Linked DNA regions of Homo sapiens. The protein of the gene in region 3 interacts with the protein of the main gene of each other region in a pairwise test. Each region holds a gene or a part of one and is shown on either strand. Other genes may lie near its edges.

Region 1 (5,174 bases), on a different chromosome or scaffold from region 3:
TCATAATTTTTTTTTTTCTTTTTGAGACAGAGTTTCACTCTTGTTGCCCAGGCTGGAGTGCAATCACGCGATCTCGGCTACTCTAACCTCCGCCTCCCGGGTTCAAACAATTCTTCTGCCTCAGCCTCCCAAGTAGCTGGGATTACAGGCATGTGCCACCAAGCCCGGCTAATTTTGTATTTTTAGTAGAGACAGGGTTTCACCATGTTGGCCTGGCTGGTCTCGAACTCCCGACCTCTGGTGATCCACCCGCCTTGGCCTCCCAAAGTGCTAGGATTACAGGCGTGAGCCTCCGCGCCCAGCCTTTTTTTTTTTTTCTTTTAAGACAGATCTCTGTTGCCCAGGCTGGAGTGCAGTGGCACAATCTTGGCTCACTGCAACCTCCACCAGGTTCAAGTGACTCTTCTGCCTCAGCCTCCCAAGTAGCTGGGGTTACAGGTGTGCATCACCATGCCCGGCTAATGTTTTTGTATTTTTAGTAGAGATGGAGTTTCACCATGTTGGCCAGACTGGTCTTGAACTCCTGACCTCAAGTGATCCGCCCACCTCGGCCTCCCAAAGTGCTGGGATTACAGGTGTGAGCTACCGGGCCCAGCCTGTGTGTCATAATTAATAGGAAATCCTTATCTCTCTTCAACCCTTGGGGTCCTCAGACATAGAGAAGAGCCCTCTCATTAGAAAGGTGGTGACCTCTGGAAGCAGTAACTTCAGCACTGCACCTTGTCCAGGGCCCCACCAGCCCCAGGGTATTTAGTTCATGGTTGGAACATCTCTGTCTGGGAATCAAACTGGAAGGGACCCTGGATCCCCATCATAAGGAAGCAAGATACCCTGATCTTCATCCTGAGTTAAATCTGGGTGAAACTGCCAGTGTCCTCTCTGAGCTCAAGCCCCTCTGACTCTTTTTTTTTTTTGAGACGGAGTCTCACTCTGTTGCCCAGGCTGGAGTGCAGTGGCAGGATCTCGGCTCACTGCAAGCTCCGCCTCCCGGGTTCACGCCATTCTCCTGCCTCAGCCTCCCGAGTAGCTGGGACTACAGGCGCCTGCCACCACGCCCGGCTAATTTTTTGTATTTTTAGTAGAGATGGGGTTTCACTGTGTTAGCCAGGATAGTCTCGATCTCCTGACCTTGTGATCCGCCCGCCTCGGTCTCCCAAAGTGCTGAGGTTACAGACCTGAGCCACCGCGCCTGGCCAACTCTTTTTTTTTTTGACATGGAGTCTCACTCTTTTGTCCAGGCTGGAGTGGGGTGGCGCAGTGTCAGCTCACAGCAACCTCTGCCTCCCGGGTTCAAGCAATTCTTCTGCCTCAGCCCCCCAAGTGGCTGGGATTACAGGCGCCCACCACCACACCCAGCTAATTTTTGTACTTGTAGTAGAAATGGGGTTTCACCATATTGGCCAGGCTGATCTCAAACTCCTGACCTCAGGTGATCTGCCCGCCTCGGCCTTCCAAAGTGATGGGATTACAGGCATGAGCCACTGTGCCCGGCCCCGCCTCTGACTCTTGAATGAAGACCAGGCGAGTTTTGCAGTCACTTGGTGGCAGTGTGCTGAGGCTTGTGGTCCCAAGTTCACTGGGGTTGATTCCAGCAGCTCTGGGCCTTGTGTGGGATTTCAGCCATCCATGTAGTGTGCTGGGGAAGTGAGAGACCCTGGAATAGGGAGTTAAACTGCCAGGGTGGGGACAGTGCATTAGCAAAGGAGTGGAAGCCTTCCAGGAGAATGAGGGAGAGCCCCAGGGAAGTGGTTTGTTGCTTGTTACAGAGGGACCAACCCCTGTAGGAAGCCTAAAGGGCTGGGAAAGATATGCATGAAGGAGGCCTTGGAGAAGCAGCTTTCTGAGCCCTGGTGGGTGATGGTGTTAGAGAGCAGGCCTCCAACACTTCACACCCCCATTTCAGAAAAGATGAGTCAAGAGTAATAAGAGGAATGATTTTAACATTTTAGAAACATGGGCCTTCGGCTAGGATAAGGGGCCCAGGCAGAGGAGTGAGGAGGGTGGGCGCCCTGACAGCTGAGGCTATGCGTGTTCCTGCCCCCTCTCAGGGTTGAAGAGCAGCATGAGACTGAGGCCCAGGGAGATGAGTCAAAGCCGTGAAGCTCGGGCCATCTTTTCAGCTAGACCCTGTGTTGAGTCTGGGCTCTTGAACAGCAAAGCCATACTCCCGACCAGGGAAATAAATGAGAGCCAGGACTTCAGTTTTTTGTTTGTTTGTTTGAGACAGAGTCTTACTCTGTCACCCAGGCTGGAGTGCAGTGGTGCAATCTCAGCTCACTGCAGCCTCCGCCTCCTGGGTTCAATCGATTCTTGTGCCTCAGCCTCCCGAGTAGGTGGGATTACAGATGTGTGCCACCACGCCTGGCTAATTTTTGTATTTTTAGTAGAGATGGGTTTTCACCATGTTGGCCAGCTGGTCTTGAACTCCTGACCTCAGGTAATCCACCTGCCTCAGCTTCCCAAGGTGTTGGGATTACAGGTGTGAGCCATCACGCCTGGCCAGGAGTTTGGTTTTAATGAGACTGAGTTTCTGGAGAGGGAGGGCTGAGGAGGATGGCTGATTTCCTTAGAGTTGGCCTGGCTGTGCTGACTTGTTCTCTCTTTGTGTGTAGGTGTAGACGGGGCACTGCCTTCAGAGCAGGTCCTGCCAGCCTCGCTGGAGAGGATGCCCTCGTGTCCGTGATGGGCTGTGGGACAAGCAAGGTCCTTCCCGAGCCACCCAAGGATGTCCAGCTGGATCTGGTCAAGAAGGTGGAGCCCTTCAGTGGCACTAAGAGTGACGTGTACAAGCACTTCATCACAGAGGTGGACAGTGTTGGCCCTGTCAAAGCCGGGTTCCCAGCAGCAAGTCAGTATGCACACCCCTGCCCCGGTCCCCCGACTGCTGGCCACACGGAGCCTCCCTCAGAACCACCACGCAGGGCCAGGGTAGCTAAGTACAGGGCCAAGTTTGACCCACGTGTTACAGCTAAGTATGACATCAAGGCCCTAATTGGCCGAGGCAGCTTCAGCCGAGTGGTACGTGTAGAGCACCGGGCAACCCGGCAGCCGTATGCCATCAAGATGATTGAGACCAAGTACCGGGAGGGGCGGGAGGTGTGTGAGTCGGAGCTGCGTGTGCTGCGTCGGGTGCGTCATGCCAACATCATCCAGCTGGTGGAGGTGTTCGAGACACAGGAGCGGGTGTACATGGTGATGGAGCTGGCCACTGGTGGAGAGCTCTTTGACCGCATCATTGCCAAGGGCTCCTTCACCGAGCGTGACGCCACGCGGGTGCTGCAGATGGTGCTGGATGGCGTCCGGTATCTGCATGCACTGGGCATCACACACCGAGACCTCAAACCTGAGAATCTGCTCTACTACCATCCGGGCACTGACTCCAAGATCATCATCACCGACTTCGGCCTGGCCAGTGCTCGCAAGAAGGGTGATGACTGCTTGATGAAGACCACCTGTGGCACGCCTGAGTACATTGCCCCAGAAGTCCTGGTCCGCAAGCCATACACCAACTCAGTGGACATGTGGGCGCTGGGCGTCATTGCCTACATCCTACTCAGTGGCACCATGCCGTTTGAGGATGACAACCGTACCCGGCTGTACCGGCAGATCCTCAGGGGCAAGTACAGTTACTCTGGGGAGGTGAGTCTGTCCTGCCCCTGTCCTGGATGTTGGGGAGGCACCTGCGGGGGCAGGTATATCCTGCAGCTCTCAGTCAGAGGTATGTCCTCAGGGCCATGCTCGTGAGGGCCAGGCAGGTCATATAAAAGGGACAAAGTGAGACTATCAGAATGTAGTTTGGGTTCCCTCAAGGTGAGCCCTGAGACAAGGACTTGGGAGCAGATAGTTTATTTGGGATGTGATTTGAGTAACTAAAAGTGAAGGAGTGGGAAAAGTGAGGCAGGAAGGGAGAAAGTCAGTAGAGTATATTGAGAAATGGACTGCCACTGTGGGCCACTGGGAACCTTGGTAATAACCATGTGGAATGTGCCTCATAGTTGTACCACCAAAGAGCAGGAACGTGAGTTTCTTTTTGTTTTGTTTTTTTTTTAATCCACTGACTCCTGTACTTCATGGGTTGAGAATTTCTTTGAGGACACTAAATCTCTGGTGCTTCTGGGCTGTCCTGATACCAACTAGTGCTAGAGAAAGTCTTCAGGCAGAGAAGCAGAGAGATGCAGGCACTGGCGGTGGGAAGCTGTTGCCAGGCACCAAGCAGTGTGCCACAGCTGCAGATGAGCTCAGGGGGTGGGCTGAGAGGATGTGGGCAGGGCCTTCCCAGCATCTGCTCTGTGGGGCCCCAGCCAAGCTAGACTGAACATGCCCATCTCAGAGAGCAGCTTCTCATCACTGTCCAGTTTCACCACACAATGAGGACCTCGTGTGTCCAGATCTGATTTTTTTTTAGAAGAGAAACCAGAAAATCTGATCTTTTATTTTTTGAGATGGAGTCTTGCTCTGTTGCCCAGGCTGGAGTTCAGTGGCACAATCTTGGCTCATTGCAGTCTCCACCTCATGGGTCCAAGTGATTCTCCTGCCTCAGCCTCCCAAGTGGCTGGGATTACAGACCTGGGATTACAGGCCCGCATCACCTCCCCCAGCTAATTTTTGTATTTTTAGTAGAGATGAGGTTTCGCGACGTTGGCCAGCCTGGTCTCGAACTCCAGACCTCAGGTCATCCGCCGGCCTTGGCCTCCCAAAGTGCTGGGATTACAGGCGTGAGCCACTGCACCTGGCCAGAAAATCTAATCTTAAAATGTTAGAATATTCTGATTCACATATTTAAGCAGCTTCTTGTGCGCCAGCAAACACTAACCTGCAGGTCACATTCAACCGCCAGGCTGTCAGTTTGTGTCTTTGGATCCATTGATAGTCCTGATGCCTCCAAAAATGTGTGAGGTTTCAGCACTGTTGGGAGCTGATGGAAGGTACAGAAAAAGTGAGGGCTGGTTGGTCCTTAGGAAGGATGCTGACTGGGTAAAAGACAAGGCTGACTGCAGGAAGCAGCAAGCATGGCAGCTGGAGCCTAGTGGTGTGCTGGGAAGGCTGTGAAGAAGAGAGTCTGTGTCGGCTTTATGTGGGAGGGAGGTGAGCTTGGCAGGATGACAAGATTTTGCCAAGGCAGTGAGAACCCCCTCTTCTAGGGGGCTCCCCATAGGGTGTTTCCTTCAGATATG
Region 2 (5,174 bases), on a different chromosome or scaffold from region 3:
CTGGGGGTGATGGAGACACCAAGCTGAGTTAGACTCACCTCTGAGGTCAAGGAGCCCAGTCATAGGAAGACAGAGACCCATTATCAGACAACTACAGTAGCATGTGTTGAGTGTGGATGATATAAGATATGTAAGCTCTGTGCTTCAGCAGAACAAGAGTAGAATAATTAACTCTTCCTAGTGGATTCAAGAAAGGTGGCGTTGTCTGACTACAGACTCTATGCCCAGAGCCAATTCCTCTTCAACACTTTACAAAACAGTAACACCCTGTTCTGAGTTCCTAGAAATATCATCCTTTATTCTCTACACTCCCTGCTAATGCTCTGGAAAACCCCACTATCCCCAGCTCCTCTGACCTGAAGTTGCGCTGAGAGCAGAGTCATTTTTGTAAGATGTGACAATCAAGAATGTTCTGGTTAAAAAAAATAGATCTCTCCAACATTGATTTGGAGAACCCAAAACTGAGTGACCACATGTCCCAAGTCTGAACAGGACAGGCTCAGATTACACCTGTCGTTCCTGCATAATTGAAGCACATACCATTGTAGACAGCAAATAATAGGCTTGCTCTACACATAGCATTTCTAGCACCCTTTCTTTTTTGAGATTGGAGGAAAAGGAAGTAGTGGGAAGGTTTAATAGTTCATAGTTTGCTGATATTCTCAGAAAAACCATGAAGGGATTGAAATTGTTCCAAGTTCCCCATTGTAACTTTCCCATCTTACCCAATGCAAGGCAACAAGTACCAAATGCTTGCTTACCCACAGTTCCATATCCACTACACTCAAAACTTTGATACAATCATGTTTTTTTAATTTCTAAAGTATGTATTTAATCTCCCAGAATATTTATGGTGACAAGTTAACAGATAAGTAAATCCTGGCTCCTGTGCACAGGAGAGAAGGCCCTTTTCCCTTGCTGACTTGCCGCCTCATGGGAGCCACTCCCTCTTAGGTGGCTCTTTGGAGTTGCAGCGCTGCCCTGCTTTTGTCTGGTCACTGGAGTAACCCAACAGTGCGACTGTCGACTCCATGGCAGGCAGCTGGAAGGGCTCATGACAGCTCAGAACCCCATGGCTGTGCTCCTACTTACTCTTTCAAGGTGACAGGCTTGCCTTTCTCTGCTTCCCGCCTCAAGTTTCTCACCAATACATCTCCATACTGGGCAATGATGGGGAACATCTAAGCACAAAACAGATCAGTACCTGTAGTTAAATGTGCAGACTCAAGTCCCAGAAGGATATGGCTTTCTCCAGCATGGAGCAGTAAGTGACATTTTGTAATGAATTTTGTGATGTCTTTTCTGTACATAAAGATAAAAGACCATTTTTAGGAAGCTCGAACTCAGTGGACTACCCCTTGGAAACGGACTGTGATCTTACTTTCTACCTGTCCCCAGATTCATTCTTTACATTTCTAATTAAGACTCATCTTATTTTCATACCTCCTTGAGTTTTCCGCTGGTGAAGGTTGGAGACAGCAATGACCGTATTCTCTTCCATTCTTCATCCTCAGCTAAAGAGATGGCACTTTTCATAAATCCCACTGGGCCTAAAGACTAGAGTTCAACAGAAACATTTTTTCTCACATTAGTTGTGGTGATCTTCATGGTTGCACAAAATATATTGAAGAGGCATCCTTATTTAACAAATATTTATTGACTGTATATGATATTATGGCAAGCCATATTCAAGATGCTCAATGGAGATCCTAGATGCCTAGCCTCTTCTGAGTGTATGTGGGGCGGGGGTGGGAGTGGGGAGACCCAGCCATCTGGTGTGGTCTCCTGCCTCTATATCTCAGTCTCCTTTTAATTGCAAATGCTCCACGTGGTAGGGAACTGTTCTTCCAGTGGAATAGACAGGAACAAGACCTAGCCCTTCCCCAGGAGTGTGCAGAGTAGAAAAGGATTGGTGACAGATGGGCAGACTGTATGTTGCCTCAGACCAGCTCTGTCTTTAATACACCTACAGCATGGGCAACTTGAAAAAGGGATGCCATGATGTGGTGATTTTTTTTTGAAAAGTAGGTAATACTTAAAGACTAGAAACCTGTTTTGAAGGAATAATGCAATTTCCTTGAAAATTCTTTTCTCTTAATTTTTTATTCCATAAATAGAAGGAAAAAGAAAGGGATAATTACTTTTCCCAACTTGGGGCTGGACTATCAAGCCAGCATGCTTGGAACTTTCTCTTATCTTCCACAACTATGTTTTGTTTTAAAATGTGTACTTCCAGCTGTCATGATAAAATCTCAATAAACTAGGAAGAGAGAGACAGTTCCTTCATTTGATAAAGACAATCTGTAAAAAAATCATTCAGTTAAATCACATTTAATGATGAAGGACTGAATGGTTTTTCCAAGATCAAGAAGAACTAAAAAATGCCCACTCTCAACATTCTTACTAAAGAGCATACCTGATGTCTTAATACACTAGACAAGAAAAAGAAATAAAAGGCATACAGATTGGAAAGGAAATAATAGAATTGTCTCTATTTTCAGGTGACATAATTGTCAATGTATAAAATGTCAAGGAATATACAAAAAAATTTCTAGAACGAATAGGTAAGTTCTGCAAGGCTATAGGATACAAGATCAACAAACAAAATTATTCACATTTCTATGTAACAATAATCAATATCTGAAAATACAAGAAAAACAGTATCATTTACAGTTACTCCAACAAAAATGAAATATTTCTGGTGTAAATCTAACAAAAGATGTACAGGACCTCTATGCTGAAAACTATAAAATGTTGAGGAAAGTAATAAAAGCTAAAGAAATGGAGAGGCATACTATATTCACGGGATGAAAGGCTGAACATAGTAAAGATATAGATTATACCCAAATTGTTCTATTGGTTTAATTCAAGCTTGTCCAACTTGTGGCCTGCAGGCCTCATGCAGTCCAGGATGGCTTTGAATGTATCCCAATACAAATGTGGAAACTTTCTTAAAACATTTTGAGTTTTTTTGCAATTTTTTTTGTAATTTTGTAATTTGACTATGTGATTCTCAAGTGTGAACTTCGTAGACAACAATGGAATGGAAAGGGGTAATCAGAGTATGTCACATCCACAAATAATGGACTAGTATCCATAATTTGCATTATAATTGCAAACAGTTCAGCAAGAAGAAATTAAAAGCCATTAAAATTAACTAACAAAGAGCGAGAGGACGCTATTGCAGTGCCACGTGAAGTGAATTGTGACAAAGAATTCAAGTGTGTATTCTGGACAAGGCAGAGCGCTGCTGTACACCAGACACTGTCGCCATTTGTACGCATGTGTGGCTTCAGTTTTATGGTGGTGTGCGACTTCCAGTGTGTTATCTTCTAATCACGGACAGTTGAATTGACACTGTCAGGTATTAGGTGTGTTTGTGGCAATTTGGCAAGTAAAACCCAGCAATTATCAATAATATTTCAACCTACCTTTGTAGATGATAGGTGTTTAATATTATTTAGAAGACATGTAAGTATTCTTATTTGATTATTAAACCTTGCTTTCTGTTCTATTTTCCTATCTGTTAATTTCCATAATAAAAGTAAATATAGTTGCTTATCTATTATAATGCTTTTAATTCCAGAATGGCTTCCACAATGTCTTAAAAAGAAAACCCTAAAAAACAAAAATTATGGATGAAGGAAGATTGTTCAATGAAAAGTGGACAAATGACTTTTTCTTGTTGAGGCAAATAGCGAAGCACTCTGCTTAATTTCCACGGAATTTGTGCCAGTTTTCAAAGACTACAATTTGAAGAGGCATTATATGCAAAAACGTGCTGACAAATTTGGTGTGTATGTGTTGTAAGGACAAAATAGCAGAACTGAAAAAAAGTCTGTCTTTTCAACAAAAAAGATTTTTTAAAAAGTTACAACTCGGACTCAATCGTAAGGTAAAACCTAGTTATGTGGTAGCAAATTTAATAGCAAAAAAATCAAAACCATTTACTGATGGTGAGTTTATTAAGCAATGTCTGGAAGATGTGGTAGATATTATTTGCCTTGAGAAACTGATATTTCTAAAATCAGTTTGTCTCACCAGACTATAGCCAGGAGAATTGGAGAAATTGGGAAATCTATTGAAAGACGTTTGGAGAGTAAAACTGCTAATTTAAAATTTTATGCTTTGGTGATGGATGAAGGCACTGACACTACAGATACGGCACAACTTGCTATTTTTATTAGAGGTATTGATGATGAATATAATGTCACTGAAGAAATCGAAATGTCACCATGCTATTAAAAGACACAACTAAATCAAGAGATTTATATGAAGCAGTGAAAAATATGTTAAAGCAATTTTCTTTGTCCTTTGTAAACATATGTGATATAGCTACAGATGCTGCCCTGGCGATGGTAGGTAAAAGAGAGGGACTTGTACAATTAATAGATGATGCAGTTGCCACACAAAACTCACATTTGATGAAGTATTATTGCATAATACATCAAGAAAATCCATGTGCACAAGCTTTAAAAGTAGATAACGTCATGCAAATTGTCATCAAGGCTGTAAATTTCACAAGGGCCCAGGAATTGAATCATCGCTAGTTTCAGGAATTCCTTAAAAGTATGGATGCTGACTCTAGCAAGTCATTCACTTTTTAGAAGTAAGATGGTTAAGTCAAGGCAAAATGTAAAGATTTTATGCTTTGTGATGTGAAATCAAGCTGTTTATGGTATCAAACAAAATTGGTGCCAGAACTTGACAATGAAAACTGGCTTACAGATTTAGCATTTTTAGTGGGTTTGACGGCCCATTTAAGTGAGTTAAACCTGTGTCTTCAAGTTGAAAACCAACTTAACAATACAATGTTTCAAACCATAACAGCATTCCATATGAAACTGAAATTATGGCAAGCTCAAATTAAGGCAAACAATTTTATGCATTTCGACATGTTGGCTAAACATGGTCCTGTGAACAGCCAAAAATACGCAGCCTTGCTTTTCAATTTGATACAGGAATTTGAAAACAGGTATTTCAAGATTTCTGAAAAAATCATCAATATTTTGGTATATTTGCAACTCCATTTTCAGTCGACATATATATGTTACCTGGCAATTTTGAAATGGAATGCCTAGAGCTGCAATCTGATGTTCAACTTATAGAAAAATTTGATTTTGCCTCTTTACTGGACTTTTGTAAGACCTGTCTTCCCAATGACAAATATCCCT
Region 3 (5,174 bases):
GGCACTGAAAGGGCCAAAGCTTTCTTCTTCAGAGTCAATGTGCCCCGCTCAGTAAACGGGTACTCAGGAAATGAACAAGGAATGGGGGAGTTGTGGGACCTCATTTATTTAGCAGACGTGATCTCAGACCTGACCAGGTGCTGGAGGTGTGAGATGAACCAGAGCTGTCCTTGTGCCACTCACAGCCCTAGGGAGGCAGGTGCAGGTGCACATTCGTTGGTTCATTCATTCATTCATACTGAGCCCCTGCTGTGCCCTTGGGGATCAAGAAAGAGCCGGCACTGTTGTCGGGTAGGTGAGAGGCACTACGGTGAGATCACAAAGAACAGTGAGAGGGCAATGCCTCAGAGTCTCAGAGGTGGATGAACATTTATTAAGCACCTGCTGTGTACCAGGTACAGCACTGTCACCTTCATGCACACTGTCCCAGGCAATCCCACCCAGGGCGCCTCTGATCCTGTCTCTGGCTTGTGGACACAGGTGTCCGGAGCACTGAGGTCCCTGAGACAGTGAGGACCCCGGCTGGACACACCTGGGCAGGTGATGCCTCCTCTCTTAGCCACACGTTCCTCTTCCGGGAAATGGAATAATTCCTTCTATTTTCTGGGATTCTCTAGAGGGGTTTTTTTTTTTTTCTGAGACGGTATCTTGCTTTGTCGCCCAGGCTGGAGGACAGTGGCACATCTCGGCTCACTCCAAGCTCCGCCTCCCGGGTTCATGCCATTCTCCTGCCTCAGCCTCCCGAGTGGCGGGGGACTACAGGCGCCTGCCACCACGCCCGGCTAATTTTTTATATTTTTTACTAGAGACGGGGTTTCACCGTGTTAGCCAGGATGGTCTCGATCTCCTGACCTCATGATCCAGCCACCTCGGCCTCCCAAAGTGCTGGGATTACAGGCATGAGCCACCACGCCCAGCCTCTCTAGAGGATTAAGTAAAGCTGTGTCTGTGACTTTTTTAGCAAATCAAGTACCAGCTTCTTGGTGTTTTCCTAAGATCAACAGCCAGGAATAAAGACAGCAGTGGATTTAAAAATAGTGAAGATCGTCCATTTTATGTGGTGTGTATTCTACCACACTGGGGCAGGCCAGGTGCAGCGGTTCACGCCTGTCATCCCGGCACTTTGGGAGACAGAAGTTTTGGGAAGATCAGTTTGTGAGATGACACTCTGACAAAGCTGGAAGCTGTGGCTCTTCCCAGCTCCCGACTAGAAAGAACACAAAGCAAAGAGCCCCAGGAAGCAGGTACCCACAGCCTTGTTTATCAGGGAGTTTGAGATCAGCCTGGGCAACATAGCAAGACCTCATCTCTACAAAAAATACAAAACAATCAGGCAGGCGTGCAGGCTCACGCCTGTAATCCCAGCACTTTGGGAGGCTGAGGCGGGCGGATCACAAGGTCAGGAGATCGAGACCATCCTGGCCAACACGGTGAAACCCCGTGTCTACTAAGAAACACAAAAAAATTAGCCGGGCGTGGTGGCGGGCACCTGTAACCCAGCTACTTGGGAGGCTGAGGCAGGAGAATGGCGTGAACCCGGGAGGTGGAGCTTGCAGTGAGCCGAGATGGCGCCACTGCACTCCAGCCTGGGTGACAGAGTGAGACTCCATCTCAAAAAAAAAATAAAAAACAATGAGGCAGGCGTGATGGTGTGCACTTGTAGTCCCAACTACTTGGGAGGTGGAGGTGGGAGGATTGCTTGAGCCTGGGAGGTTGAGGCTGCAGTGAGGGATTTTTTTTTTTTTTTTTTAAGACGGAGTTTTGCTCTTGTTGCCCAGGCTGGTGCAATGACGGGATCTTGGCTCACGGCATCCTCCACCTCCTGGGTTCAAGTGATTCTCCTGCCTCAGCCTCCCGAGTAGCTGGGATTACAGGCATGCGCCACCACGCCCGGCTAATTTTGTATTTTTAGTAGAGACGGGGTTTCTTCCTGTTGGTCAGGCTGCAACCTCCATCTCCTGGTTTCAAATAATTCTCCTGCCTCAGCCTCCTGAGTAGCTGGGATTACAGGCACCTGCCACCATGCCCGGCTACTTTTTTGTTTTAGGTAGAGACAGGGTTTCACCATGTTGGTCAGGCTGGTTGACCTCAGGTGATCTGCCCGCCTCGGCCTCCCAAAGTGCTGGGATTACAGATGTGAGCCACCACGCCCGGCCTGCAGTGAGCTTTGATTGTACCACTGCACTCGGGGTGAGACCCTGTGTCCAAAAAAAAAAAAAAAAAAAAAAAGTTGAGGCAGTTCCCAGATAAACAAAACAACAGGCCAGGCACTGTGGCCCACGCCTGCAATCCCAGCACTTTGGGAGGCCGAGGTGGGCGAATTGCCTAAGCTCAGAAATTCGAGACCAGCCTAAGCAACATAGCCAAACCCCATTTCTACAAAAAATTTTAAAAGTAGCTGCTTGTGGTGTCGGGCGCCTGTGGTTCAGCTATGTGGAAGGCTGAGGTGGGAGGATCGTTTGAGCCCTGGCGGCGGAGGTTGCTGTGAGCTGAGATCGCGCCACTGCACTCCAGCCTGGGCCACTGAGTGAGCTTCCCTCTCATAAAAAGAAAAAAAAAAAAACAGGCTGGGCGCGGTGGCTCACACCTGTAATCCCTGCACTTTGGGAGGCAGAGGCGGGTGGATCACGAGGTGAAGAATTCAAGACCAGCCTGACCAAGATGGTGAAACCCCGTCTCTACTAAAAATGCAAAAATTAGCAGGGTGCGGTGGCGGGCACCTGTAATCCCAGTACTCGGGAGGCTGAGGCAGCAGAATCGCCTGAACCCAGGCGGTAGAGGTTGCAGTGGGCCATGGGCCAAGATCACACCACTGCACTCCAGCCTGGGTGGCAGAGTGAGACTTCATCTCAAAAAAAAAAAGAAAAAAAACCAAAACAAAACACCAGAAGCTGGCGGCACTCCTGGGCGCCCAGCTGTGAGTGGAGTCTCCCTGTCCCGCCTTTGGGCCTTACCCGTGCTGCGCCTGCTGCCTGCATCCCCCTTCCCTGGGTCTCCGCACGTGGGCCCTGCCTCATTTTCCCGGTCCCAGTTTCTGCGTCACCTCCTGAGAGGGGCCTCCTGTCAGCTTCCACGCAGCTCTGTCACGGGTAGATTCTCTCACGAGTGGAAGTGGCTCTCAGCTGCACTGGAATGTCCGGTCCACACGGACGGGGCCTCGGCTGTGCTGTCCACCCTGTATTTCCAGTGCCCAGTAATAGGTGCTTAGAAAATACTTACTGAATGAGTAAGTATACAGTTGTACCAGGCAGGTGATGTTATTATCCTTTTTTTTTTTTTTTTTTTACAAGGAGTAAACTGAGTCACAGAGAAGTGATGTGACTTGGCCAGGATCATGCAGCTGGTCGGGGTGGAGCCAGGCTTTGAACCTGTCTGTCCTGCTCCAGAGCTGGTATTCATGACGGGTGTGCTGCAACCCCCTCCTTCTCACACAGAGAACCAGATGGTGTCTGTGTGTTACGCGCTGGACACCTAATTCACGATCCCCGCCGAAAACCACTTCGGGAGCATTATGAATTCCATTGTGTCCTCCACCCCCAAGGATAGGTTGGGATCCTGAACCCCCATCCCTCAGCATGTGACTTCATTTAGAGGTGGGTGTTTACAGAGGTCCTGAAGTGAAAATGAGGTCATTAGGGTGGGCCCTAATCCAGTGACTGGTGTCCTTATGAAAAGGGGAGATTTGCGCACAGAAACAGACGTGCTAGCTGGGCATGGTGGCGCATGCCTGTGGCCCCAGCTACTTGGGAGGCTGAGCAAGAAGACTGCTTGAGCCTGGGAGGTTGAGGCTGCAGTGAGCAGTGATTGCGCCACTGTACTCCAGCCCAGGTGTCAGAGGGAGACCCTGTCTCAAAGAAATATAAAAAATAGGCCAAGTAGACTGAGTGTGGTGGCTCACGCCTGCAGTCCCAGCACTTTGGGAGGCTGAGGTAGGTGGATCACGAGGTCAGGAGTGTGAGACTAGCCTGGCCAACATGGTGAAGCCCCGTCTCTACTAAAGATACAAAAAATTAACCCGGTGTGGTGGTGGATGCCTGTAGTCCAGCTACTTGGGAGGCTGAGGCAGGAGAATTGTTTGAACCTGGGAGGCAGAGGTTGCAGTGAGCCAAGATCGCACCATTGCACTCCAGCCTGGGTGACAAGAGTGAAACTCCATCTCCCCCCCCCAAAAAAAAAAAAATAGGCTGGGGGCAGTGAAATTGCAGCACTCTGGGAGGCCAAAGCAGGAGGATTGCTTGAGTTCAAGAGTTTGAGACCAGCCTGGGCAACATAGTGAGACCATGTCTGAAAAATCTAAAATTAAAAAAGGAAAAATGAAAAAAAAAAAAGAGACAGCTCCAAAGGGAAGAGGAAGGGAAGAGGGAGAGAGGAGATGGTCACCTGTGAGCCAAGGAGAGAGACCAGAGCGGATCCTCCCTGAGGGCCCTGAGAGGGAACCAGCCCTGCCCACACCTTGATCTGGGACTTCCAGCCTCTGGGACTGTGATTTTTTTTTTTTTTTTTGAGATGGAGTTTTGCTTTTATTGCCCAGGATGGAGTGTAATGATGCGATCTCGGCTCACTGCACCCTCTGCCTCCTGGTTTCAAGCGATTTTCCCGCCTCAGCCTCCTGAGTAGCTGGGATTACAGGTGCATGCCACCACGCCTGGCTAATTTTGTATTTTTAGTAAAGACGCGGTTTCTCCATGTTGGCCAGGCTGGTCTCAAACTCCTGACCTCAGGTGATCTGCCCACCTCGGCCTCCCAAAGTGCTGGGATTACAGGCGTGAGCCACTGTGCCCGGCCAGGTCTGTGAGGTTTTAAACCACCTGTCTGTGGCACTTTGTTACGGAACCCGAGCTGAGTGGTACAGGGAGGAAGGCCCTGTGGTTCAGCGCATTTTACAGCTGAGGAAACTGAGGCTGCAGTCTCCATCTGTGTGTCCTTTGGTTGCTTGTATGAGTGAGGTGGCAGGTTTGGGAATGAAACCACGCCTGCGGTGCCGGGGCTCCCACCGGTAACCTCCCGTTTTTGGCCTCGGGGCTCCGGCAGGAAGGAGTCCCAAGGCTTAGATGGAGGTGCGGAGGGCGTGTGAGTGTCCTGGAGCTGCTGTAACAATGTACTGCAAACCCAGTGGCTTACACCCTCAGACGTGCATTCCCTCACGGTTCCGGAAGCCGGCAGTCTGAATCGCG

Evidence for each region. The genes of interacting proteins can lie anywhere in the genome.
Region 1: the proteins of RDH13 (region 3) and PSKH1 interact in a two-hybrid assay, tested with the Homo sapiens proteins (one large-scale study listed by BioGRID and IntAct).
Region 2: the proteins of RDH13 (region 3) and CYP3A5 interact in a two-hybrid assay, tested with the Homo sapiens proteins (one large-scale study listed by BioGRID and IntAct).

Annotation. Positions count from the first base shown.
Region 1 is NC_000016.10:67,906,068-67,911,241, forward strand, and holds part of PSKH1 (serine/threonine-protein kinase H1), read left to right. Parts: intron 1-2,612; 5' UTR 2,613-2,682; coding exon 2,683-3,639; intron 3,640-5,174. UniProt on the Homo sapiens protein: Serine/threonine protein kinase that may be involved in the regulation of pre-mRNA processing.
Region 2 is NC_000007.14:99,665,509-99,670,682, forward strand, and holds part of CYP3A5 (cytochrome P450 3A5), read right to left. Parts: exon of another isoform or gene 3,643-5,174; coding exon of another isoform or gene 3,587-3,642; exon of another isoform or gene 2,316-3,586; intron 1,558-2,315; coding exon 1,444-1,557; intron 1,182-1,443; coding exon 1,093-1,181; intron 1-1,092. UniProt on the Homo sapiens protein: A cytochrome P450 monooxygenase involved in the metabolism of steroid hormones and vitamins.
Region 3 is NC_000019.10:55,049,119-55,054,292, reverse strand, and holds part of RDH13 (retinol dehydrogenase 13 isoform 1 precursor), read left to right. Parts: intron 1-5,174. UniProt on the Homo sapiens protein: Retinol dehydrogenase with a clear preference for NADP. Oxidizes all-trans-retinol, but seems to reduce all-trans-retinal with much higher efficiency. Has no activity toward steroids.